7 linked regions of the Homo sapiens genome follow. The protein of the gene in region 1 purifies or fractionates together with the protein of each later gene. This does not show direct contact. Each region holds a gene or a part of one and is shown in the gene's direction. Other genes may lie near its edges. The genes, in order: SAP130, CUL4B, BRMS1L, SMARCA1, BPTF, CHD5 and LIN9.

The links.
Region 2: the proteins of SAP130 (region 1) and CUL4B purify together in Homo sapiens (affinity purification with western blotting; 2 studies listed by BioGRID, with this or other methods). This does not show direct contact.
Region 3: the proteins of SAP130 (region 1) and BRMS1L purify together in Homo sapiens (affinity purification with mass spectrometry, with the first as the bait; one large-scale study listed by BioGRID). This does not show direct contact.
Region 4: the proteins of SAP130 (region 1) and SMARCA1 purify together in Homo sapiens (affinity purification with mass spectrometry, with the first as the bait; one large-scale study listed by BioGRID). This does not show direct contact.
Region 5: the proteins of SAP130 (region 1) and BPTF purify together in Homo sapiens (affinity purification with mass spectrometry, with the first as the bait; one large-scale study listed by BioGRID). This does not show direct contact.
Region 6: the proteins of SAP130 (region 1) and CHD5 purify together in Homo sapiens (affinity purification with mass spectrometry, with the first as the bait; one large-scale study listed by BioGRID). This does not show direct contact.
Region 7: the proteins of SAP130 (region 1) and LIN9 purify together in Homo sapiens (affinity purification with mass spectrometry, with the first as the bait; one large-scale study listed by BioGRID). This does not show direct contact.

Annotation. Positions count from the first base shown.
Region 1 is NC_000002.12:128,021,560-128,025,059, reverse strand, and holds part of SAP130 (histone deacetylase complex subunit SAP130), read left to right. Parts: intron 1-3,500. UniProt on the Homo sapiens protein: Acts as a transcriptional repressor. May function in the assembly and/or enzymatic activity of the mSin3A corepressor complex or in mediating interactions between the complex and other regulatory complexes.
Region 2 is NC_000023.11:120,526,661-120,529,962, reverse strand, and holds part of CUL4B (cullin-4B), read left to right. Parts: intron 1-3,106; coding exon 3,107-3,202; 3' UTR 3,203-3,302.
Region 3 is NC_000014.9:35,832,838-35,836,337, forward strand, and holds part of BRMS1L (breast cancer metastasis-suppressor 1-like protein), read left to right. Parts: intron 1-140; coding exon 141-268; intron 269-2,006; coding exon 2,007-2,086; intron 2,087-3,500. UniProt on the Homo sapiens protein: Involved in the histone deacetylase (HDAC1)-dependent transcriptional repression activity. When overexpressed in lung cancer cell line that lacks p53/TP53 expression, inhibits cell growth.
Region 4 is NC_000023.11:129,467,991-129,471,490, reverse strand, and holds part of SMARCA1 (SWI/SNF-related matrix-associated actin-dependent regulator of chromatin subfamily A member 1), read left to right. Parts: intron 1-164; coding exon 165-287; intron 288-2,585; coding exon 2,586-2,718; intron 2,719-3,500.
Region 5 is NC_000017.11:67,905,503-67,909,002, forward strand, and holds part of BPTF (nucleosome-remodeling factor subunit BPTF), read left to right. Parts: intron 1-3,500. UniProt on the Homo sapiens protein: Regulatory subunit of the ATP-dependent NURF-1 and NURF-5 ISWI chromatin remodeling complexes, which form ordered nucleosome arrays on chromatin and facilitate access to DNA during DNA-templated processes such as DNA replication, transcription, and repair.
Region 6 is NC_000001.11:6,142,322-6,145,821, reverse strand, and holds part of CHD5 (chromodomain-helicase-DNA-binding protein 5), read left to right. Parts: intron 1-1,666; coding exon 1,667-1,798; intron 1,799-1,890; coding exon 1,891-1,999; intron 2,000-3,216; coding exon 3,217-3,408; intron 3,409-3,493; coding exon 3,494-3,500. UniProt on the Homo sapiens protein: ATP-dependent chromatin-remodeling factor that binds DNA through histones and regulates gene transcription. May specifically recognize and bind trimethylated 'Lys-27' (H3K27me3) and non-methylated 'Lys-4' of histone H3.
Region 7 is NC_000001.11:226,267,665-226,271,164, reverse strand, and holds part of LIN9 (protein lin-9 homolog), read left to right. Parts: intron 1-3,074; coding exon 3,075-3,208; intron 3,209-3,500. UniProt on the Homo sapiens protein: Acts as a tumor suppressor. Inhibits DNA synthesis. Its ability to inhibit oncogenic transformation is mediated through its association with RB1. Plays a role in the expression of genes required for the G1/S transition.

The DNA of each region.
Region 1 (3,500 bases):
ACCACTGTCTACTCATTGCTCAAACCAGTAGCTGAGGCTTTTTTTTTTTTTTTTTTGCGCAATAGGGTCTCACTCTGTCACTCAAGCGGCAGTACAGTGGCATAATCACAGCTCACTGCAGCCTCGATCTTTTGGGCTCCCCAGCTAATTTTATTTTATTTTTTATTTTTTTAATTTTTTTGAGACAGAGTGTCACTCTGTGGCCCAGGCTGGAGTGCAGTGGTGCGATCTCAGCTCACTGCAGTCTCTGCCTCCTGGGTTTAAGTGATTCTTGTGCCTCAGCCTCTGAGTAGCTGGGATTACAGGCATGCGCTACCATGCCTGGGTAATTTTTTTTTTTTTTTTCGCATTTTTAGTAGAGACAGGGTTTCACCATGTTGGCCAGGCTGATCTCGGACTCCGGACTCCAGACTTCAAGTGATCCACCCTCCTTGGCCTCCCAAAGTGCTGGGATTACAGGCATGAGCCACCACACCCAGCCACATGTTCAGCTAATTTTAAATTTTTTTGTAAAGAGGGGATCTCACAATGTTGCCGAAGCTGGTCTCAAACTCCTGGACTCAAGTAATCCTCCGTTCTCAGCCTCCCAAAGTGTTAGGATCACAGGTGTGAGTCACTGTGCTGAGCTGGAAGCATCTTTAATTGCTCTGCGTTTTCTTATGAGCTATGGCCCTTGTCTAATGTTCCAGCCTCATTTCTTACTATTTAGCCTTCCTCCTGCCAACCTAATTTTTTTTTTTTCCAATGGAGATGGAGTCTTGCTATGTTGACCAGGCTTGTCTCAAACTCCTGGCCTCAAGGAATCCTCCCGCCTAGGCCTCCCAAAATTCTGGGATTACAGGTGTGAGCCACTTGGGTGGCCGCCAACTTAGTTTTTGTTATAAATTTATTTTAGTTCTCTTTAGACTTGAAGTGACTTTAAGCTACTTATGACTCCTGCTCGATGGTATCTACTCATATTTCTAAATAAATGATTAAAAAATTCCCAATTTCACGACTTTGGGACTTTGCACATTCTTTTCCTTTTGCCATAGTCTTCCTTGTTTCTTTCCATATACTTACTTATTTGGCTAATTCCTTCTTTTTTCAAGTTTCAACTTAGATGTTATTTTCTCTAGAATATTCTAGAGAATATTATTATTCTCTAGAATAACAGAAGACTCTATCTTCCATAACAACTCAGGTAGAGAATCTAGAAATAGAACCAGATATATATAGCCAATTGATTTTTGATAAAAGTTCCTAAGTAATTCAATAGGGAAATGATAGTCTTCTTTTTTTCTGAGACGGAGTCTCACTCTGTCTCCCAGGCTGGAGTGCAGTAGCATGATCTCGGCTCACTGCAAGCTCTGCCTCCCAGGTTCACACCATTCTGCCTCAGCCTCCTGAGTAGCTGGGACTACAGGCGCCCACCACCGTGCCCGGCTAATTTTTTGTATTTTTTAGTAGAGACGGTGTTTCACTGTGTTAGCCAGGATAGTCTCGATCTCCTGACCTCTTGATCTGCCCGCCTCAGCCTCCCAAAGTGCTGAGATTACAGGCATGAGCCACTGCGCCTGATGGTCTTTTCAGTAAAATAGTGCTGGAAGATCATAACATCATTATGGGGGAATAAAGGCTGTGTGCAGTAGGCTCATGCCTGTTATCCCAGCACCATGGGAGGCCAAGGCAGGTGGATCGCTTTGAGCTCAGGAGTTTGAGATAAGCCTGGGCAACATGGCAAATCCCCGTTTCTACAGCAAATACAAAAATTAGCCGAGGCCAGGCTAATTGTACAGTGGCTCATGCCTGTAATCCTAGCATTTTGGAAGGCTGAGGTGGGCAGATCACCTGAGGCCAGGAGTTCGAGACCAGCTTGGCCAACATGGTGAAACCTGTCTCTACTAAAAATACAAAAATTAGCTGGGCGTGGTGGTGGGTGCCGGTAATCCCGGCTAATCGGGAGGCTGAGGCAGGACAGTCACTTGAACTTTGGGAGGCAGAGCTTGCAGTGAGCCAAGATAGCGCCACTGCACTTCAGCCTGGGCAACAAAGCAAGATTCCGTCTCAAAAAAAAAAAAAAATTAGCCAGGTGTGATGGCTCATGCCTATAGTCCCAGCTACTTGAGAGGCTGAGGTGGGAGGATCGCTTGAGCCTGGGAAGCGGAGGTTGCAGTGACCTGAGATCTTACCAATGCACCCCAGCCTGGGTGACGGAGTGAGATCTTGTCTCCAGGAAAAAAAAAAACAAGAACTTATAACTCAGTAGTAAAAAGACAAACAACCTGATTTTTTTTAAGACGGGAAAATATTTGAGTACAGAAGAGCTAGATAAGTGCCAAAGAAGCACATGAGAAGATGCTCACCATTATTAATCCTCAGGGCAGTGCACATTAAAACCACTGTGAGAAACTACTGCACATCCAGTAGAAAGACTGAAATTACAAAGACTGACAATACCAAGTGTTGGAATGGTTGTAGCGCAAATAGAACTCATACTTTATTGTTGGGAATGCAAAATGGCTAGCCACTTCAAGAAACAATTTGGCAATATCTTATAAAATTAAATATACACTTACCACACCACTGAGCAATCTCATTCCATAGGTATTTATCAAAGGTAAATGAAAATATATGTTTATACAAGGACTTATATTCACATGTTCGTAGAAACTGTATTCATAATAGCCAAAACAGGGTTCTCACCAAATGTCTATCAGATGGTGACAGGATAAGCAAATTGTTGTGTGTCCATCCGTGCAGTGGAATGCTACTTGGCAATAAAAAGGACCAGACTACCAGTATACACAACATTATGGATAACCCTCAGTAACATTACACTAAGGAGAGAATCCAGATACATAGGACTACAGATGGTATGATTGTGTTATGTGAAATTCCAGAAAAGACTATGCCATAGTGACAGAAAGCAGATCAGTGGTTTCTGGAGAATAGAGGTTGTGGGGAGGGAATTGACTGCAAAGGGGTGTGAATGAACTCACTGGAGTAACAGGAAATGATCTGTATCATGATTGTGTTATACCGCTGTATACTTTTGCGAACACTTATCTAATGTTACACAAAGAATTAGTGAATTTTATATGTAAATTGTACCTCAGTAAAGCTAATTGATTAAAATGGACAAAAGATAAACATGCACTTCACTAAAGAAGATATATATGAATGGGCTGGGATCACATAAAAAGATGTTCAACATTACTAGTCATCATGGAAATGCTAATTAAAACTACAGTGAGACACACACTACAACCCACTAGAATGGCTGTATATCAAGCAATGAGTAAGGAAGAGGAGCAGCTTGTATACTGCTAATGGGAACAGGCAATGCTACAATCACTTTGGAAATGACTTCGGCAAAGTTAAACATATACTTACCATTTGACCCAACCATTCTGCTCCTTGGTGTTGCTGAGGATATTTGTAAAAAAATTATTGAACTTTTCTTGTAAACCAGTGGTGGTATTCTATGTAATCTATTCCCCAATAAAGAGGTTTTATAG
Region 2 (3,302 bases), on another chromosome or scaffold:
ATGATTTCCAAAAAAAAAAACTTTGTTGGCATATGTGGGCAGCAGTGACAAAAGGGAAAAATAACAGAAAAGCCTGGATACCTGAAAGTTTAACTGCTAAATGAGTGTTTGAAATTTTCAAGTTTATTCACTATATTTCTTTTGAACTTCTTGGTTGGTTATTTACTTCTTTTCCTCTTGAAATACCATGGTATTTATTGAAATACCATGGTATTTGACAGATTTAGTTATTGTGGATTGAGTTAAATCTCCTGTTTAGTTAGCTTATATAAGAGATCATCTGTTAAAAACCATACAGATAACTAGTCATGATTAAGCATCTTTTTGAAAAGTGTAGTGATAGTTCTGGTAAACTGAAATTGGTCATTAAATGGAAACGTTCCATTGTGAATGACCAATAATAAAGTCACTTAATGTGATGTTGTACTGGCCTTTTTTCCAAGTTTTAGGAGGTAGATAGCCAAACCCTTGGATGATAAACATTGATAGAGTTTGAATAGACTGCTAGCTATTAGGGTTCTTATGAGCTTTGGACTTTCATAAATCACTTCACCATGCTGATCTTGTTTCCTCTTTTGTAAAACTGAGATAATAATAGTACTTACCTTGTAGGATTATTGTGAGGTTTAAGTGAGATCATGAATGTAAAAATCTTAGCACTGGACCTGGTACATAATAAGCACTCGGTAGCTCTTAGTTCTAATAAGGTAAGCATTTTCTTTTCTCCAAACCTAATATCGCACTCCTCATTACCACCCTCTCACCCTCATGCTCTGCTTAATAGTCATTTCACCTCAAGCCAGAGAGATCACTGATGCTGGGGAAATTAGGGGATCGCTGTAGTTAATATTGTGCTGATATTCTAGGTCTTTCACCATAATTAAGAGAAGTCATCTGATTTCCCAACCTTGGGATTACTGGATAAAATTTTCACTGCTGTATCAGACTACTTCCCCTCTTTTCCCCTCTTGAACAAGTGGTCATTTTACTTATCCTGAAAAACTTTCTATTAGCAAACAAGATTATATTATATTTACAGACTAGATACATAAGATATATAGTGGAATTTTGTCATCCAGGAGCTTAGAATGCAATCATGAAGATAAAGCTACAAGCTTTCTTGATTACTTTTAAATCACAGGATGCAGAAATCCAAGTCACTTAGATGCACTAAACCAGAAATATGAAGATCTAAATTATGAGGTACTTCATTTATCAAGCCATTTCATGTAGTTTTTTTTTGAGATGGAGTCTCGCTCTGTCATCCAGGCTGGAGTGCAGTGGCATGATCTTGGCTCACTGCAGCGTCTGCCTCCCGGGTTCAAGCAATTCTTTTGCCTCAGCCTCTCGAGTAGCTGGGACCACAGGTGCGCACAATCACGCCTGGCTAATTTTTGTGTTTTTAGTAGAGACGGGGTTTTACCATATTGGTCAGGCTGGTCTCGAACTCCTGACCTCATGATCTGCCCACAGCCTCCCAAAGTGCTGGGATTACAGGCATGAGCCACTGCACCTGTCCAGTATTCTTTTAAATAGTGATTTTTTTTTTTTTTGAGATGGAGTCTTCTTGCTCTGTCACCCAGGTTGGAGTGCAGTGGCGCGATCACGTTTCACTACAACCTCCACCTCCCGGGTTCAAGCAATTCTCCTGCCTCAGTCTCCCTGGTAGCTGAGACTACAGGCGCCCACCACCACACCTGGCTAATTCTTGTATTTTTAGTACAGATGGGGTTTTGCCATGTTAGCCAGTCTGGTCTCAAACTTCTGACCTCAGGTGATCCACCCATCTTAGCCTCCCAAAGTGCTGGGATTACAGGCATGAGCCACCACACCCGGTCTAAATAGTGATTTCATCAGTACGTTTTAAATCTTAATTTATAAAAATGAAGCCAACTAACTCTTGCCCAAAGTAAAGGTGTGCTTCATGAACTATCTTGACAAAACTAGTATTCTGTGTCCTTAAACTACCTTACAGTGCTCATGTGAAGTTACAATAAATGTAGTCTTTTGTATTTAACCACGCGAAGGGTAGCTGCTTCTGGCATGACCTCTTTAAAATAGAAAAGTAATAGAAAGTATTCCGTAACAATATGACAAGGATGTGACAGTTTAATGTATGTATAGTATATAGTACAGGTTGAACACCTTTAATGAGAATCCAAAATCTGAAATGCTCTAAAATTGGAAACTTTGAATGCCAACATGATGCCACAGGTGGAAAATTCCACACTTTACCTCATTTGACAGGTTGCAGTCAAAACTTTGTTTCATGCACAAAAGGTATAAAATTATCTTCAGGCTATGTAAGGTATGTATGAAACATAGATGAATTTTGTGTTTAGACTTGGGTCCCATCTCCATGGTATCTCACTATGTATATGCAAATATACCAAAATGAAAAAGTCAGGACCAGGCATGGTAGCTCACACCTGTGAGTACTGGGATTCCAGTACTTTGGGAGGCTGAGGCTGGGGGGATTACTCCAGAACAAGAGTTTAAGGTCAGCCTGGGCGACATAGCAAGACCCTGTCTATTAAAAAAATTAAAAGCTCCAAAAAAAAATCAAAAATCAAAAACACTTTTGGCGTTAAAGAATCTTCAACATACCTGGGCACGGTGGCTCATCCCTGTAATCCCAGCACTTTGGGAGGCTGAGGCAGGTGGATCACCTGAGGTCAGGAGTTCAAGACCAGCCTGGCCAATATGGTGACACCCCATCTCTACCAAAAATACAAAAATTAGCCAGGCGTGGTGGCTTGTGTCTAGTCCCAGCTACTCGGGAAGCTGAGGCAGAAGAATCACTTGAACCCAGGAGGTGGAGGTTGCAGTGAGCCAAAGTGGTGCCACTGCAGTCCAGCCTGGGTGACAGAGCGAGACTCCGTCTCAAAAAAAAAAAAAAAGAATCTTCAACGTGTATAAAACATTTTTTAACCTGGTTTATTTTCATGATACTTTTCTCTAAAAAAGAGATTTAAATAAATAAAAATTTTAAAAAAGGAGATTAAATTCATGAGCCGAAACTGTTGTCTTTTTAATGGGGTATTAACTAAATGGGCTTGAGCCAATGATAATGAACTTTACATTGAAAATTTGCCTTCTCTTACAGCCTGCTGATCTTAAGAAGAGAATAGAATCTTTAATTGACCGGGACTACATGGAAAGAGATAAAGAAAATCCAAACCAGTACAACTATATTGCATAGAATGTTGGCCTTGCAGCATTTGGTGTCATATGCAGTAGCCAGTGGATAAACTAACCTGTTGATTCAATATTATTTGACTCCTTTTTTACTACCGATGACC
Region 3 (3,500 bases), on another chromosome or scaffold:
CTGCTTGAGATCAAGGCAAAATATATTTGATAGATTATTAGAATATAAATGATATTGGGAACAAATAATGTATAGAAATGGCAAATTGTTAGCCTTTGTTGAGATTTTTAAATTAACATATTAATTTTTGCTTTGTTAAGACTTTATAAAGAACGATTAAGTCAGGTGGATGCAAAACTACAAGAAGTCATAGCTGGAAAAGCACCAGAATACTTGGAACCGCTGGCAACTTTACAGGAAAATATGCAAATTCGTACAAAGGTAGCAGGTAGGAAAGTGAAGAATCTTTTCCATATATAGAATGTAAACTCTTCAGTAGCTTTAAAAGGTGTTTATCAAGTAAGTGTTTTATGTTGATGGGATTACAAGCATATTTACATCGACCAGAATATTTTACTTTTAGTTAGCCCACAGTTACTGTATTTATTGAATACCTCTTGCTTTGCTCTGCTGCTGTAGGGGATTAAAAAAAAAAAAAGCCCTCAAGTTGTTTACAGTGTTGTTGAGAAGATAGTTCCACATTTGGTGAAACAACTGGAAACCATGATACTTTCATTAAGAGAGACTGTTACTATCACATTTTAATTCCCTATTAGATAAAGTTTAAGTGTTCTAGGCATTTTTTTAATACGTAAAAGTGATAGGATTTTTTTTAATTTATAAAAAATTTTAAAAATGTTTGATCAGGATATTATAGAACAGGAAACTTGCCTTGAACTAGATGATTTAATTTTTCCTTTTTACTTTGATAAGTTTGGTTACTCATTTGTGGCTACAAATAAACAAAGATGCACTATATTTGTATGGTTACATTTCAGTCTTATGTTTGTAAATAGGATCCAGCCTCAGTATCATGTCCTGGCACTCATAATCAAGGGATATATATATGATTTTTCATAGTCAAAAACTAAACTTTAATTAGTGGAGATGCTGGTTGTTTTTCTCTTATGTGGCACTAATTGACCCTTATGTACCTGTTAGATAATACCTAAGGCATTGTTGATAATAAGTTCTTTTTACTAAACCCTCCTTTAACCAAATTTTATTTTTGAGTGCTTAATATTATGTAGATGATATGATACTCTTCACTGCTATCTTTACATATTGACAACATACCCTTAGAAGTAAAAATATCCCTAATTTTCTTTGTTCTTTTAGATTACATGGATGATCAGGAAATATTACTTGAGTCGATTATTTACTTTTCTACTCTGGCCTCTTTTATATTTTGATTTTGCAGAGTAGTGTGTGTGAATGTGTTGCTGATGACGTAGTTCCAGATATCTGTCTCTTGCCTTTACTATACAAAGAGAGATAATTACATTTCTAGGGCCAACTATGGCATAAAGCTTAGAATACATATCCAGAGCTCTTTGCGTGCCGTTTTTGTAGTGACATATTTGCATGGCCATGTTACCTATTTTATACTATTGTCCTGTTAGGGTCTAAGTTAAACTATCTTGGGTATCCATCCTCTAGATAAAGTCCTGTCAGGAGCACTCCAGACATAATTGATTTTGTTATATCAGTTTATATACATTTACTCCTCGTGGATTCTTTGGATTGAAAATGATAGTTAAAAAAAAAGTGGTTTTGGTGGGGTATAGTATCTAGCTGTTACTCTGAGTATATGTGATTGATGACACCAGAGTTTATTATCTCCATTTCTATTTTGAGAAACTTGAGAGATTGTTTTTCACAGGAAAAGAGTTTTATTTTCATTTTGATTATTCTGTATCAAACATTTAGGAGTAATCTTTAGAAGAATAGATTAAGAACAAAAACTAGCAGTACAGTTTCTTTCTAGCTCTTATAATTTCTAATCTTTTTGGATATATATTTTAAGTGAGCCTTTTATTTTTAGTCTTTAAAGACAAAGTTAGACTCACTTTTCAATTTTTTCTTGATCCATCTTATTAAATACAGTGAGGACAGAATTCCTGTAGGGAAGTGATAATGGAACTTCTCATTGCTAACATAATCAGAGTAATTGTGTTTGGTTGCAGGAATCTATAGAGAGCTCTGCTTAGAATCTGTAAAGAACAAATATGAATGTGAAATTCAAGCTTCTCGCCAGCATTGTGAGGTACTGTCATTTTGCATAACTTTTAAGCTAATTTCATCTCTTCAAGCCTTTTCTGAGTGTAGTAGTTAAAAAAGTAAACTAAGTAAAACAATATTAAATAGTACTTTAGCTCATCATTTGTGTGTGATTAAAAAAAAAAAAGAATAGAGTTGCATTGGAAGCTGTATTGGAGATAGGACACAAAGAAAGGACCATAGAAAAAAACTGAGATAATTTTAGAAGTTTTGCAGCTGTTACTTTAAAAAGACTTTGCAACGATTATGTCACCTGGCATTACTGAAAATATTAGTATAATTAGTATAATGTGGATTAGATTTGCGAAATATACACTCAATGGTGCAGTTAGGATGTTGGGCTATAGAATTAGTTTCTGTCTGTCTAGACCTATTTCCACATCTTTGGGCAGAATTCTCTATTTATGGGAAAAAAAATAGGTATATTTTTCTGTATATTCTGTTTATTTTGCATTTAACCCATTTATGCTGAAGGTTGCAATTTTTTTGTGTGTGTGAAAAATCAGATCTTGGTGATGACCTTGAGCAGTAGGATATAAATAACTCCCACAAGCTTAACATTCCAGTAATGGAACACTAGGCATAAATGGGTTAAAATATTTATAGCATTTAAAAAACATAGTGCCCAGGCATGGTGGCTCACACCTGTAATCCCAAGAGTTTAGGAGGCTGAGGCGAGAGGATTTCTTGAGCTCAGGAAGTCAAGACCAGTCTGGGCAACATAGTGAGACCCCCCACCTCTACAAAAAATAGAAAAATTAGCTGGGCATGGTGGCAGGTGGCTGTAGTCCTAGCTACTCAGGAGGCTGAGGTGAGGGGATTGCTTGACCTTCGGAGGTTGAGGCTGCAGTGAGCTGTGATTGTGCCACTGTTCTGCAGCCTGGGTAACAGAGTGTCACCCTGTCTCAGAAATAGCAACTACAACAACAACAAACAAAAAAACCCCATAGTGCCCGTTTTGCAGATAACTTTTTATCAAATCTAGACAAGATTATAGATATACAGGTAGAAATAAGAGGACAAGTTCTATAACGATTCTTCTGTCACTTTAATGTGCCGTAAACTAAGAGTAGTTAGGTATAAAAATGATAGAGCTCATTGTTTCATTTTCATAATTACAACTGAGATTGATTATCTTTTTGGCGTTTACTAGCTGCTTGGATATTTTTTCCTAAGAAGTGCCTATTTGTATTTCTTGCCTTTGTGTTGGCTTTTAGTCTTTCCCTCATTGACTATATAAGTTCTTTATATATTCTGGCTATAAATGCTTTGCTGGTTGTATGCTTTGCAAATCTTTTTGCCCAGGTGGTACGATGTTTTCACTCTTTCTGATGACTTGCTGCAAAGAAGTTTTACATTTTAATGTAGTTGAATTTATTATCTTTTTATTTATGGGATGT
Region 4 (3,500 bases), on another chromosome or scaffold:
ATAGGATCATGGTAGCAGAAATGTGGAGAGGACCGTGTGTCATTCTGGCTATGATTTTATATTGTTTACTCTTGAAATAACTCTAAAGATTGATATGTGTATATACAGCCTTAGTAATTAATTTTTCTCATCAGTTTACTCTTAGTTTATCTCTTGATTTATAGGTTCCAAGGAATCCTGATATCCCAAATCCAGCTCTGGCTCAAAGAGAAGAGCAAAAAAAGATTGATGGAGCTGAACCTCTTACACCAGAAGAGACTGAAGAAAAGGAAAAACTTCTCACACAAGTAAAATATTTTCAATGGCTGTAATACTTACAGTCAATCAATAGAAAAAAAGAAAATATAGATCACACTTTTTATTGTATGGGCCTAGTATCCTAGTGTGACACACCAACAAAACTCAGGGCTATTTTGTAAACATGTTTAGACCAAATCTCCTTATTTTTAAAAATTGATCTTATAGAATATGCCCTTTTGGAAATAGTGGATAGTATGTATATGCAAAATATAAGTGTCAAGTATTAGCAATTTGACATACATTTTGCCAATTATAATAAGGTCAGTGAATCCACATTTGAATTCTGATAGACAGTAGTTATTAACATATTCTTTTTTGTTTTTTGAGACAGTCTCGCTCTGTCACCCAGGCCGGAGTGCAGTGGTGCGATCTGAGCTCACTGTATCCTCCACCTCCCAGGTTCAAGTGATTCTCCTGCCCAAGCCTCCCGAGTAGCTGGGATTACAGGCACCCACCACCGTGCCTGGCTAATTTTTGTGTTTTTAGTAGAGATGGGGTTTTGCCATGTTGGCCAGGCTGGTCTCAAACTCCTGACCTCAAGTGATCCACCCACCTCGGCCTCCCAAAGTGCAACTGATACTACAGGTGTGAGTCACCGTGCCAAGCCTGTTATTAACATATTCTTGAAAATTTAAATTTCTTTTGTTTATAGATGTGAATTGTCTCCTGAAGTTATATTCTACTAATTTTTTATTAATGGAATAATTTCATAATTTTCAAAATTCTTTTTATCTTTTTTTATAATTTTCATACAATGATGAGAGATTTCTGAAGCTTTTATTATTATTATTATTATTTAAGGTGATCATTGTATAACAATTATTAAATTAGGAAGGTTTCCATTTGAACAAAATATTAATGCTTTTAAGTCATTATTGCTATCATGAGTTTTACGAGTGTTCTACTTCTAAAATAAACTATAGAAGATAAAAATTTCAGCATAGAAGGCTTGCAAAATAAACAAAATGTGTACCGTAGGACATTACTTTAGTATAGAGGGTTGCCAGCAAGATTTATTTATTCAACAAATTTTGAACAATGTGCGATGCATAGTAGTAGGTAATTCTCCACGTTAATTATTGAAAGATAGTTTTTATATTTGTATATTATTTATTATATAGGTTTTTTTTGCTATAACGTAATTTTATTGTATGGATTTTCACAAATTACATTCATAAGTTTTTGAGCCAAATGCCTGGAAGTAATAAAGTTTAGTTTGAAAATATAATGGCAGATGGCTGAATATTAGAACTTACCACAGAATAAAATAAAACATTTAAATATTCATGTTCTATTTTCAAAATGTATTTCCTGAATGTAAAAGTAAAGTTATGGCTTTAGAATGCTACATGACTTGGAGTATATTGTGAATGTACGGTATAACATGAATATACAGTCTCAACTGAGATAATATTTTAGTTTGTAATTAGAAATATAATCAGTTTTCTGCTTCTCCTAGTATATGAATTCATTTTTGTCCTTCTCTGCTGCCTTAAATAATTAATCTTTTTCAAAAAACCATGGCAGTACGTAGGAACAAAATGTGGGGTCATCTGAAATCTTTATCAACTAAAAGCCAGGGATAGAGTTTTGCAGTGTCTGGAGTATCACATTTATGTGAGTTGGGGCTCGAGGAGTGGAAGACAAATTCTTGGTCTTGTGACTTCACAGACATGCTAATAATGCCAAGGGAATTTAAAACACTGGCTAAAGTGTTTTATGTTTTAGTAAAGAAATTGAGTGGCTCCAATAACGTTCTGCTTGTAGAAGTTCTATTTATGAACATAATTTAGAACAGAAATTATTTATTCACACTAGTTCAGAATGATGTAAAGAGCTACAATTTTTTTTTGCATTATCTTTTGGTTATTCCTCAGTGTTCTTTTGATTTAGTGCATCCACATTTCTCTCTTTTAATTTATGTAGGAACAGATCTGTGAAAAAAATCATTGAAGTACTAGAATATCACGACTTCAGCATTTATATTAGCATTTTTATTTTCATGCATTTGTATTTTAATGTAGGCATCTATAAAATATGAAATTAAAAACTACAGATCTTCGAACTATGTATCAACATTCTCTTTGTAATAGAAAAGCAGTTATTTCTATAACAACTCTCACTCAACTTTTGATTCCAACATAAAATATGTGCAATTTTATAAGGAGAAACATTTTAAGTCTTTTAAAGTGTTTTTTAATGTATCATTGTATAGAAGTAAATAGGGCAATAAATGGATTTATTAATTTAACCTCTATTGATAATGCTTAACTTTTTGTTCACAGGGTTTCACAAACTGGACTAAACGAGATTTTAACCAGTTTATTAAAGCTAATGAGAAATATGGAAGAGATGACATTGATAACATAGCTCGAGAGGTAGAGGGCAAATCCCCTGAGGAGGTCATGGAGTATTCAGGTTTGTATATAATTTGAAACATGGTGTTGTATTTTAACGTTATTCATTTATTTAGCATCAATTTAATTGTACCTTTGTTCAGAGATGTTTTAAACTTTTATGAATAAGACATAGATGAGAGTATAAACTATAATTGTATTTCTATGAAAAGGTTATAAGAAAGGTTATAAGATTTATCCTAACAAACTGACTGCTATTGTCTCTATCACCTAGCTAAAAGAGGCAAATAAAGCTCTGATAAAACAAGGGTGGCTCTTGGATAAGCATTGACAAAATTAGTTTCCCACCTTCCCACCTCTGGAATTTGGTCTTCTGGTTCAGTTCTGAGATTCACATTCAGTGGATTGAATTCGTGCCTTTCTTTCTAGGTCGTCCTTAAAGTAGAGAGTTCCTGTCAGGCCCATTTAGATGCTCAAACACCCTCAGAGTTCCACCCTATTCCAGAGAGTTCCTGTGGGTCCCATTAACTTGGGGCTAGCGGGCGTAGAGCTGAAAAGATTGCTTTAATCAATCTGTTAACTGGTCCTCAAATCCTCTCCCTCTCTTACTCACCTGTGTTGTTGAGCTCGACCAGAATCAGTTTAGCTGCTGAAGCATATGGATTTTTTTTACACTTACTGGTTTATTATAAAGGGTATTGTAAAGGATACAGATGAAGCGTGTAGGGCAAAGTATGGGCCAAGAGGGCGCAGCGCTTTGGTGCCCTCCCTGGGCGAAACCTCTTCGTGTTTAGCTATCCAGAAATCTTATTAAAAATAGGTAAATATGTCTAGCAAGTTTTC
Region 5 (3,500 bases), on another chromosome or scaffold:
TCAAGGCCAGCCTGGGCAACATAGCAAGACCCCATCTCTACAAAAACGTTTTAAAAATTAGCCAGGTGTAGTGCCACATGGCTGTGGTCCCAGCTACTTGGGGGTCTGAGGCAGGAGGATTGCTTGAGGCCAGGAGTTTGAGGCTGCAGTAAGCTATAATTGTGCTGTTGCACTCGAGCCTGGATGACAGAACCAGACTCAATCTCTTAAAAAAAAAAATCTTAATTCAGTACTAATTCACTGAGGAGTCATGTATCTAGTAACCTTAGCATTGTTGCAAGTAAGAGAAAACCAGAAAGAAAGTGATAGAGGCTTCCAAAACACTGTCACATAAATGAGGTTTTTCAGTGAGAACATTTGGACACAGGATGGGGAACATCACACACCGGGGCCTGTCGTGGGGTTGGGGGAGGTTGGGGGATAGCATTAGGAGATATACCTAATGTAAATGTAGAGTTAATGGGTGCAGCACACCAACATGGCACATGTATACATATGTCACAAACCTGCACGTTGTGCGCACGTACCCTAGAACTAAAGTATAATTTAAAAAAATAATGAGGTTTTTTTTGGGGGGAGGGGTTGTTTTTGTTTTTTTGAAATGGAGTCTTGCTCTGTCACCAGGCTGGAGTGCAGTGGCGTATCTGGCCTCACTGCAACCTCCGCCTCCTGGGTTCAAGCAGTTCTCCTGCCTCAGCCTCCCGAGTAGCTGGGACTAAAAGTGCACACCACCATGCCCAGCTAATTTTTGTATTTTTTATAGAGACAGGGTTTCACTATGTTGGCCAGGGTGGTCTCAATCTCTTGACTTTGTGATCTGCCCGCCTCGGCCTCCCAAAGTGCTGGGATTACAGGTGTGACCACTGCGCCTGGCCTATAAATAAGCTATTAATTGAGTTTTTACAACTGGCTAATGAGCTTTAGTATTTAGAATCACCGAACTCTATAGAGATGAACTGCTCTTTTAAAAGATCATGTGTTTTTAAACTCAAGTTCAATGAGCCGATTATTTCACGAGGGTGCCAGGTGACATAGTGAAGACCACATATGCACAGAGTGATAGAACGCTGGCAGGTCCCAAGCCCTTTTCTGTGATTCTTCTCTTACCTCACCACTATCCTGCTCTTGACAGGATTACGGTTTCTTTGCACTCTCTTCTCTTTCTTCAGCCAGACCTTTCTGGAAGAAATCATTCATTTAAATTAAAAATAGATATATTTTTTATATCTATTTTCTCACACCAGTATCTTGCTCGCGACAGAATTATGATTTCTTTGCACTCTCTTCCCTTCAGCCAGACCTTTCTGGAAGAAATCATTCATTTAAATAAAAAATGGATATACCTTGCTAGGTCCTTGGGATATTTAGGTTCAAGTGAAGAAGGTAAAGAATAGGAAAATGCCTTTAAGTCCAGGTGCCATGGCTCACACCTGTGATGGGATGCCAAGGCAGGGGAGGATCAGTTGAGCCCAGGAGTTCAAGAAACAGCCTGGGCAACATGGCAAATCCCCATCTCTACAAAAAATGCAAAAATTAGCCAGACATATTGGTACACACCTGTATTCCCAGTTACTCAGGAGGCTGATGAGGGAGGATCGTTTGAGCCCAGGAGTTCAAGGCTGCAGTGAGCTGAGATGAACCCACTGTGCTCCAGCCTGGGTGACAGAGCAAGACACTGTCTCCAAAAAAAAAAAAAAAACCTTTAAGTCCCAAGAATATTCATCTAGACAGTAGTTCTGTTTTGGGAGGCTTGATTTTTTTTTTTTTTTTGTAATTATTATGGGAAATTTAAAACTACACAAATACAAAGAGAATAATGAACTCATTCAGCTTCAACAATTATCAAAGTTTATCACTTTTTTTTTTTTTTTGAGATGGAGTTTTGCTCTGTCACCCAGGCTAGAGTGCAGTGGCATGGTCTCAGCTCACTGCAACCTCCACCTCCCGGGTTCAATCAATTCTCTTGCCTCAGCCTCCCAAATAGCTGGGATTACAAGTACCCGCCACCACGCCGAGCTAATTTTTGTATTTTTAATAGAGACGGGGTTTTGCCATGTTGGCCAGGCTGATCTCGAACTCCTGACTTCAAGTGATCTGCCTGCCTCGGCCTCCCAAAGTGCTGGGATTACAGGTGTGAGTCACTGCTCCCAGCCAAATTTTATCACTCTTTGTTTAGTTGTCACTGACCACTTTTTTTAATCCTGCAGTGTTTTAAAATAAATCCCAGAAATCATGTTTCACCAGAAGTTCAATATGTATCTCTACGTAGACATTTTTCCATAACCATCATGTCATTATCACACTCAACAAATTAACCGTAATTAACAAATTAATAATCTGATTCTCAGTCCATATTCCACTTGCCCTGGTTGTCTTAGAGATACCTTTTTACTGTAAGCAGTAAACAAGGCCACAGATTGCCTTTGATCCTTTTTTTCAGTCTTTTATTCTGTTATATAAACTTCAAGGAGTCCAAGAACCATTGAAATAGATTACAAAAGTTTATATACATACTTTTTTCCTTGGTAGAGGATCATAGCATTTATCCATTTCTAATAGGGTTCTGTGACACAAAGTATGTTAGAAACCACTGATATGGGCTTTCTGGAATGATCAAATAGATTGTGATAATCCTTCATACACGAGTTTTCTTTCATTTTATTTTTTTATGTGTGTGACAGAGTCTTGCTCTGTCAGCCAGGCTGGAGTGCAGTGGCACCATCTCAGCTCGCTGCAAACTCTGCCTCCCAGGTTGAAGCAATTCTCCTGCTTCAGTCTCCCAAGTAGCTGGGACTACAGGCTCGTACCACCATGACTGGCTAATTTTTGTATTTTTAGTAGAGATGGGGTTTCACCTTGTTGGGCTGGTGTTGAACTCCTGGCCTCAAGTGATCTGCCTGCCTCAGCCTCCCAAAGTGCTGGGATTACAGGCATGAGCCACCACACTCACCCAAATTTTATCACATTTGTTTCAGTTGTCACTGACCACTTTTTTTTTTTTTTTTTTTGAGATGGAGTCTCACTCTGTCACCCAGGCTGGAGTGCAGTGGTACGATCTCAGTTCACTGCAGCCTCCAACTCCCAGGTTCCAGCGATTCTCCTGCCTCAGCCTCCTGAGTAGGGATCACAGTTGCACGCCACCATGCCTGGCTAATTTTTGTATTTTTAATAGAGGCGGGGTTTCACCATGTTGGCTAGGCTGGTCTTGAACTCCTTGTCCTCAAGTGATCCGCCCACCTTGGCATCCCAAAGTGCTGGGATTACAGGCATAAGCCACTACACCCATCCAAATTTTATCACTCTTGTTTCAGTTGTCACTGACAATTTTTTTTTTTTTTTTTTTTTTTGTTGACACGGAGTCTCACTCTGTCGCCCAGGCTGGAGTGCAGTGGCGTGACCTCAGCTCACTGCGACCTCCGCCTCCTGGGTTCAAGCAATTCTCCTGCCTCAGCCTCCTGAGTAGCTGAGATCACAGGTGTGCACCACCACACCCAGATAAT
Region 6 (3,500 bases), on another chromosome or scaffold:
CTGGGAGGGAGGCGTCTTACTTTCACCTCTGTTTTACTGATGTGAGAATAGGCACAGCAAGGTTAAGTCGCCAGAATCACACAGCCACGGGGTGGAGCTGGGATTTGAACCCCATGCTTTCTGACTGCAGGACCTGCTTTCTTAGCTACTGTTGCACCCCCCAGTGCCCCAGCAGCAGCTCTTCCTGGAGCAGTCTGGCAGTTCCCTGGGATGCCTTAGCAATCAGAGGCTGCAGGAGGCTGGCACAAAGAGCCAGAGGCAGGAGGCCCGTGGGCTTTGGTTTTGATTTGGTGGGTGGTGGGAATGCCTGCTGATTCTTGAGTTGAGGTGCTTGAGAACTGGTGGTGGCTGACAGATGGGCCTTGGGGTGGGGCCCAGAGTACCTGCTGCCTGGTGGCAGCTTGGAGCTTGTGCTCCCCATCCCAGCTACCCTGTGGCCTCTGTTTTTGAGGGGCTTAGGATCGGTGGCCTCTGACACTCAGTGCTTCTGGCTTCAGGCAGCTGTTGGGTAGAGCAGAGGTTAAAAGCCTGAGCCAGATGTTCAGATTTCAATCCCGGTTCCCATCTGCTGAGCTTTGAGGCCCTTTTAGGGAACAGGCTGCTGCACGGGTGACAGGAGCTTGCCAGAGGCTGGCTGTGGGTGGTCTTCAGTACGAGGGTCGCGGAATTTGAAAAACTGCCCCCCTTCAACTATGGGACACCCCCCTTTTCCTCCCCAGGCCTCCCTGAGAATGACCTTCAAGGGTCAGTTCCTGTGGGAACCTGAGCCCGGCAATGAATTGGCCCATGGTTTTCTACCTTTACTAAATTACATGCTAAAAATATACATGGTAGTTTTTCTCTCTGCCCCAAAGTGGGGCAGGTGAATCTCCCCCAGATTTGTTCCCCCAATCTGCAAAACAATCAATTATGTATGGGAAAACAAACAAACATCGGTTGCCGTGGTAACGGGATCGGTTTTTCTCTTAATGTTCCCAGGCCCGCAGCAGCCGCTGCTCACCGGGTCTGTGTGCCTCCTCGGCACTGCTGTGTGGGGTAGTCAAGCCCCAGCCCGGCCCTCCAGCACTCCTCTGGCCTGGTTGCCTTAGCCTGGGTGGGTGGGAGGCCCTAAAGACCCTCCCAGTGGCCAGAATCAAGCTGTGTGCTGCTGGGCTTGGTCACTGGGTCTTTGTGTCCCCAGAAGAGACCACCTCACACGCAGGAATTGCATCCTTATCTACTTTGCAGAGATGACTCCTCACCCTACGTGGGCACTGCACAAGTCCTTTGCGTATTTTAAGTTAGAAAACTGAGTCCATTGGCAGGAAGGAGAACTTTCCAACTTAGAAATCCAGAACTCCTGTGAAAATCCAGACCCTGTGACAAATGGGATTCATCCCTGCCACAGAGGCTGCAAAGGATGTGGGAGGCTGGCTCATTGCTCCTCTGTTAGCTGGCCTCCGTGTCCCTCTCCAGCTCTGCCACATCCCCCTCTCATTCGCTGTGTGGCCCCAGGCAAGCCGCTGCACCTCCCTGGAGCTTCTGCCCTCGTCTCCTCCTCCTGGCTGGGCCCAGCATCCGAGGGGACCCTGGGTGTGAATGGCTCTGCATCCTGGGAGGTGCCCTTCATCAAACCTGTGCTGTGGCCACTGCTCTGAGCGACCCACATCTGTTCACCGTGTTGCAGCTTTGACAAGAAGGGGGATGTGCACTACCTGATCAAGTGGAAAGACCTGCCCTACGACCAGTGCACCTGGGAGATCGATGACATCGACATCCCCTACTACGACAACCTCAAGCAGGCCTACTGGGGCCACAGGTGGGTCGCAGGGATCCGGCTGCTAGGCACAGGCTGCCGGGACCTGCTCCTGGGCTGAGCCTTGCTCACCTGCCTCCAATGCCGTTTCCCAGGGAGCTGATGCTGGGAGAAGACACCAGGCTGCCCAAGAGGCTGCTCAAGAAGGGCAAGAAGCTGAGGGACGACAAGCAGGAGAAGCCGCCGGACACGCCCATTGTGGACGTGAGTGGGGAGGGTGGGGCAGCAGTGGGTGGGGTTGCCAGGGCCTGCCCACCTCAGACTTGAATGTGCAGGGGGTGTGTGTTCTCAAAAGGATGTTTCCTTGGGCCCTCATGGCTTATGCAGACAGTGTCATGCCCATGTAGGCTAGGACAGCTGGAAGGCCCCTCATAACACTGCAGCTGACATGCTACTTACACACCACTCTCACCTGGGAGGAGACCCAGGATGACTCACTCAGCAGAGCTCCCTGGGTGTCCACTAGCGCCTGGCCCTGGGTTGGCCCTGAGGAGACGAGGGCCAGTGAGCCCTGGGTAGCTGTTTCAGAAGACACACTGTCTTCTAGGGGCCCTTGGTGGGTATCCACAGAACACGGAGGGCCTGGCCTGGGACTATCAGGCGCCTGTCAGATGCTGGGGAAAGGCAGATGGGCCTGGTCCATTGGGAGGACTGCATGGGGCCAGTGACCTGGAGCAGGATCAAGAGACAAATGGGCCGGGCATGGTGGCTCATGCCTGTAATCCCAGCACTGTGGGAGGCCGGGGTGGGAGGACCGCTTGAACCCAGAAGTTTGAGGCAACGTAGTGAGATCCCACCTCTACAAAAAATTAGCCAGGCACGGTGGTGTGCCTGTGGTCCCAGCTACTAGGGAGGCTGAGGTAGGAGAATCCCTTGAGCCCAGGAAATTGAGGCTGCAGTGAGCCATGATTGTGCCACTGCACTCCAGCCTGGGCAACAAAGACTCTGTCTCAAAAAAAAAAAAAGTAAATGTCTGGATCCAGTGGAGGAGCCTGTTACTGGGGGCGTTGCGAATGCCCCAGATGGATGTTCGTTTTGTTGTTCATCCAAAAAATGGTGAGTAAGTGACCACATGTCCCAGGCACTGTGTGGTACTCAAGAGGAGGCAGTGAACAGGACCAAGGTGGTGATGACAACCTGGGCTCAGAGTCAGAGAATTCAACAGTCGGGAAATTTCCCTGATAGGAGAAGTACAGGGCTGCCATGGGAGGACACTGTGGGAGCACTTCAGCCAGGCTGGGAGTCAGGGAGGGCTTCCTAGAGGAAGAGGTGTTCCATCCAAGAACTGGAGAAGAGTTAGGAAGACAGACAGGAGTGGGAAGAGTGTTCCAGGCAGAAGGAATTGCATGTGCAAAGGCCTGTAGTGTGGACTCTGGTGGCCCAGGATCTGGGGCGTGTCTGAACCGCTGCCTCCCCTGCAGCCCACGGTCAAGTTCGACAAGCAGCCATGGTACATCGACTCCACAGGCGGCACACTGCACCCGTACCAGCTGGAGGGCCTCAACTGGCTGCGCTTCTCTTGGGCCCAGGGCACTGACACCATCCTGGCCGATGAGATGGGTCTGGGCAAGACGGTGCAGACCATCGTGTTCCTTTACTCCCTCTACAAGGAGGTGGGCAGGCGGGGCAGGCGGCCAGGAGGGGTGGCTGGTCCTGGCCAAGGGCAGGTGGTCTCACGGCATCGGCCTCTCTCTCCAGGGCCACT
Region 7 (3,500 bases), on another chromosome or scaffold:
ACATGATACTTTAGCTACAGTATATAGAAAGTTGTTTGAGACGTCATACTTAAGCCACAGTTGTTTACCCCTGGAGAAATGAGAGTGTTAAAAAAGATATTAAAATCATTGATTTGTTAAGAAATTATAAGAATCTGAACTATCCTAAAAGTAATCTTTGTAAAATGAACGATAATTCCAGGTTATCTGGGATTTTCTGTAGGTTATCTAAAGGAGTAAATGGAAAAGAAATAAAAAAGATTTTATTTATCAAATAAATTTTTCAAAAAACAGAAATGAAGAGAATAGGAAAAAAGTACATACATACACAAACCTTTTTTTTTTTTTTTTTTTTTTTTTTGAGACAGAGTCTTGCTCTGTCTTCCAGGCTGGAGTGCAGTGGTACTATCCTGGCTCACTGCAGTCTCTACCTCTCTACCTCTTGGGCTCAAGCAATCCTCCCACCTCAGCCTCCAGGGACTACAGGCACATGCCACCATGCCTGGCTAATTTTTTTGTATGTTTTTGTAGAGATGGGGTTTCACCATGTTGCACAGACTGGTCTTGAACTCCTGAGCTCCAGCGATCCACCCTCTTGGGCCTCCCAAAGTGAGCCACCACGCCCAGCCTACTTTAATTCTTTGAACATATTTATAACAGCTGCTTTTTTAAGTCTTTGCTAAATATCTCTCTCAATTTCTTACTGTACTTTTCTTAAGAGCCATGCTTTCCTACTTCTTTACATGTCTAGTAATTTTTGGTGGAAAACTTGATATTTCAGATAATATATTGTAGCAACTATGTATTCTAATTTTTTGGAGAGTTGTTGGATTTGCTTTAATAACTTGGCTATGCAAATACTGATGTCTCTGCTTCATTTTTTATTCTTATATTTATTATTATTATTAAACTTGATTTCCAAAGAGTTACCCCTGTGTCTGCATATAATTTAGTGGTCAGGGCTGGGTGCGGTGGCTCACGCCTGTAATCCCAACACTTTGGGAGTCTGAGGCGGGCGGATCACCTGATGTCAGGAGTTTGTGACCAGCCTGGCCAGCATGTGACACCCTGTCTCTACTAAAAATACAAAAAAAAATTAGCCGGGTGTGGTGGCGGGCACTTGTAATCCCAGCTACTCAGGAGGCTGAGGCAGGAGAATCACTTGAACCCGGGAGGTGGAGGTTGCAGTGAGCGAGATCGTGCCACTGCATTCCATCCTGGGCAACGGAGCGAGACTCCCATCTCAAAATAATAATAATAATTTAGTGGTCACCTAATGATTTGAACAGAGGTTATGCTCAAACATCTTGATCGGGAAAAGCCTCACATTGATTTATATGTGAGTTGGGGAATGTAAATACAAAGTTGCTGCTAGTTTTCAAGTCATCCTTAGCTTTTACTTTTTGCCAGACTATTGGATCTTCCCCCTCCATTTGCATAGTAACCCAGTTAGCCAGGGATGGTAGAGAGCTTATTTCCGCCCTTTTATGGCTCTCTAGTTTCCATGATCTCCCTGTTAAATTTCTGGCTGTCTTTCATGACCAGTCAAAATTCTGGCTGGTTTTCGTGACCAACCCTGAACTAATAAAACCATTCTCATCGACCACGTTGGTGGTAGTAGTGGGTGTGTGAATAACCTCGTGCAAAGAGGCCACTGAGTCCCCCTGCCCTAACCTGAAGCTCTAGCACTTCTTCAACAATAAACGTTTCTTGTTTTCTACATTTGATCCATTTCCAGTACCCTGGAATGGTTGTTTTTCACAATCTCATTCAGGTTTGTACTTGTTTTTTGTGGAGAGGAATTACCAGCCTCTTCATGCCACCATAACTAGTAGTCCTTTTCTATGCTTATATTTGTTTACTCAGCTTCATTATTTACATCTTCTGTATCCATGTTTACTTTTCCCTTAAAGGATCTGTCAGAAACTGAGAGAGATTTTAGTCCTCTACAGTTGTGTTTTTATCAATTGATCCTTTTATTTTAAACAGTCTTGCATTGTGTATTTCTGTGTTCTATTAAAATGTTGTGTATTATACTTTTTGGTTAGTATAAAATGTATTACTTTGCCCAGTTTACAGCCATCAATGCTGTTGTTCTTAAATTTTTTACTCATGCTGGATGTTTGTTTGGATTTCTCTGATGTTATTTTAGGCTGGACTTAAATAATAGTGACACAGTTCATCTGTGTCATCAGTTCCAAGACTACTAGTTTTGGTGATTCACTAGAAAGACTCAGAATACTCAGCACATGTACTCATGGGTAAGATTTGTTACAGTGAAGGACACAAAACAAAATTGGCAAAAGAATAAGGTGCTTGGGGCAAAGTCCAGAGGAAACCACGTGCAAGTTTTCAAAAGTCCTCTCCCAATAGAGTCATGCAAGACTTTTAATTCTCCCAGAAACAAGTTGTCACAATGCTTATAAGTGTTGTCTACCAGGGAAGCTCATTAGAGACTCAGTGACCAGAGTTCTACTGGGGGCTGAGTATGTAGGCATCTTTTGCCTAGTACATACTAAAATTCCAGTCTTCCAGAGGGAAAGCAGGTGTCCAGCATTAACCACATCGTTTGCACAATCTAGACACAGTAAAACCACCATTATTAATTAGGGAACAGTGGGAACACTTCCGAAATCCAAGTTCCCAGATACCAGACAAAGGCCAACCTTGCAAGGAGGTTTTCCTAAGTATAGCAGCATCAGGCCTGCAGTATTAACTTCTTTAATTATTTTCTACACAACATCTTTGTCTTTTTTTTTAAATTGAACTACTCCTGGTGCTTCACTCATGAGTATAATGACCAAAGTTCTTTTGTTGTTTTTTTTGCAGTTAAATGATTTAAAATATTTTTCTCTTAATTTGGGAGTAATATAATTTTATTCAAATATGAAATTAGGGATCATCATTTATAGTTTTTGTTTTTGTTTCAAAAATTCTTTGTTGTTTCTCTAAGCCAAAAATAAAGTGTGTGCTTGTTTTGAAACTCTAATAGACAAAATACTGTACTATGATTTAAATTACATGCTTGGAACAGTTTTATATTTGACTATTCTTTGTATCTCCCACACATCATAATGCCTTTGTTCTTTTCTCAGCACGATTACGTGGTGTTCATGATGGTTTGTTCACTGGACAAATAGATGCTGTGGATACTCTTAATGCTACTTATAGAGTAACTTTTGATAGGACAGGGCTTGGAACCCATACCATCCCTGACTATGAAGTTCTCGTAAGTAGTATTTCATAATACATTTGTGTTTTATGCCTGTTAAATGTGTTATATAGAGTTTTTTTAGAAATCGTATTTTATGATAGAATCAAGACTTTATCTCACAGAGGAAGAGATCCTTAGGGGACCCCAGCCCTATCTGCTAGACCCCTGGTTCGGATCTATACTTAAGTCTTCCATTTGCCAGGAACTAGCATTTCTCTGTTGGACCTTAACGACACAGCACTTTAGTATAACCAAACTGATGAGTCCTGACTAAATAACCTTGGAGAAGAAGCTACATAACATTTTC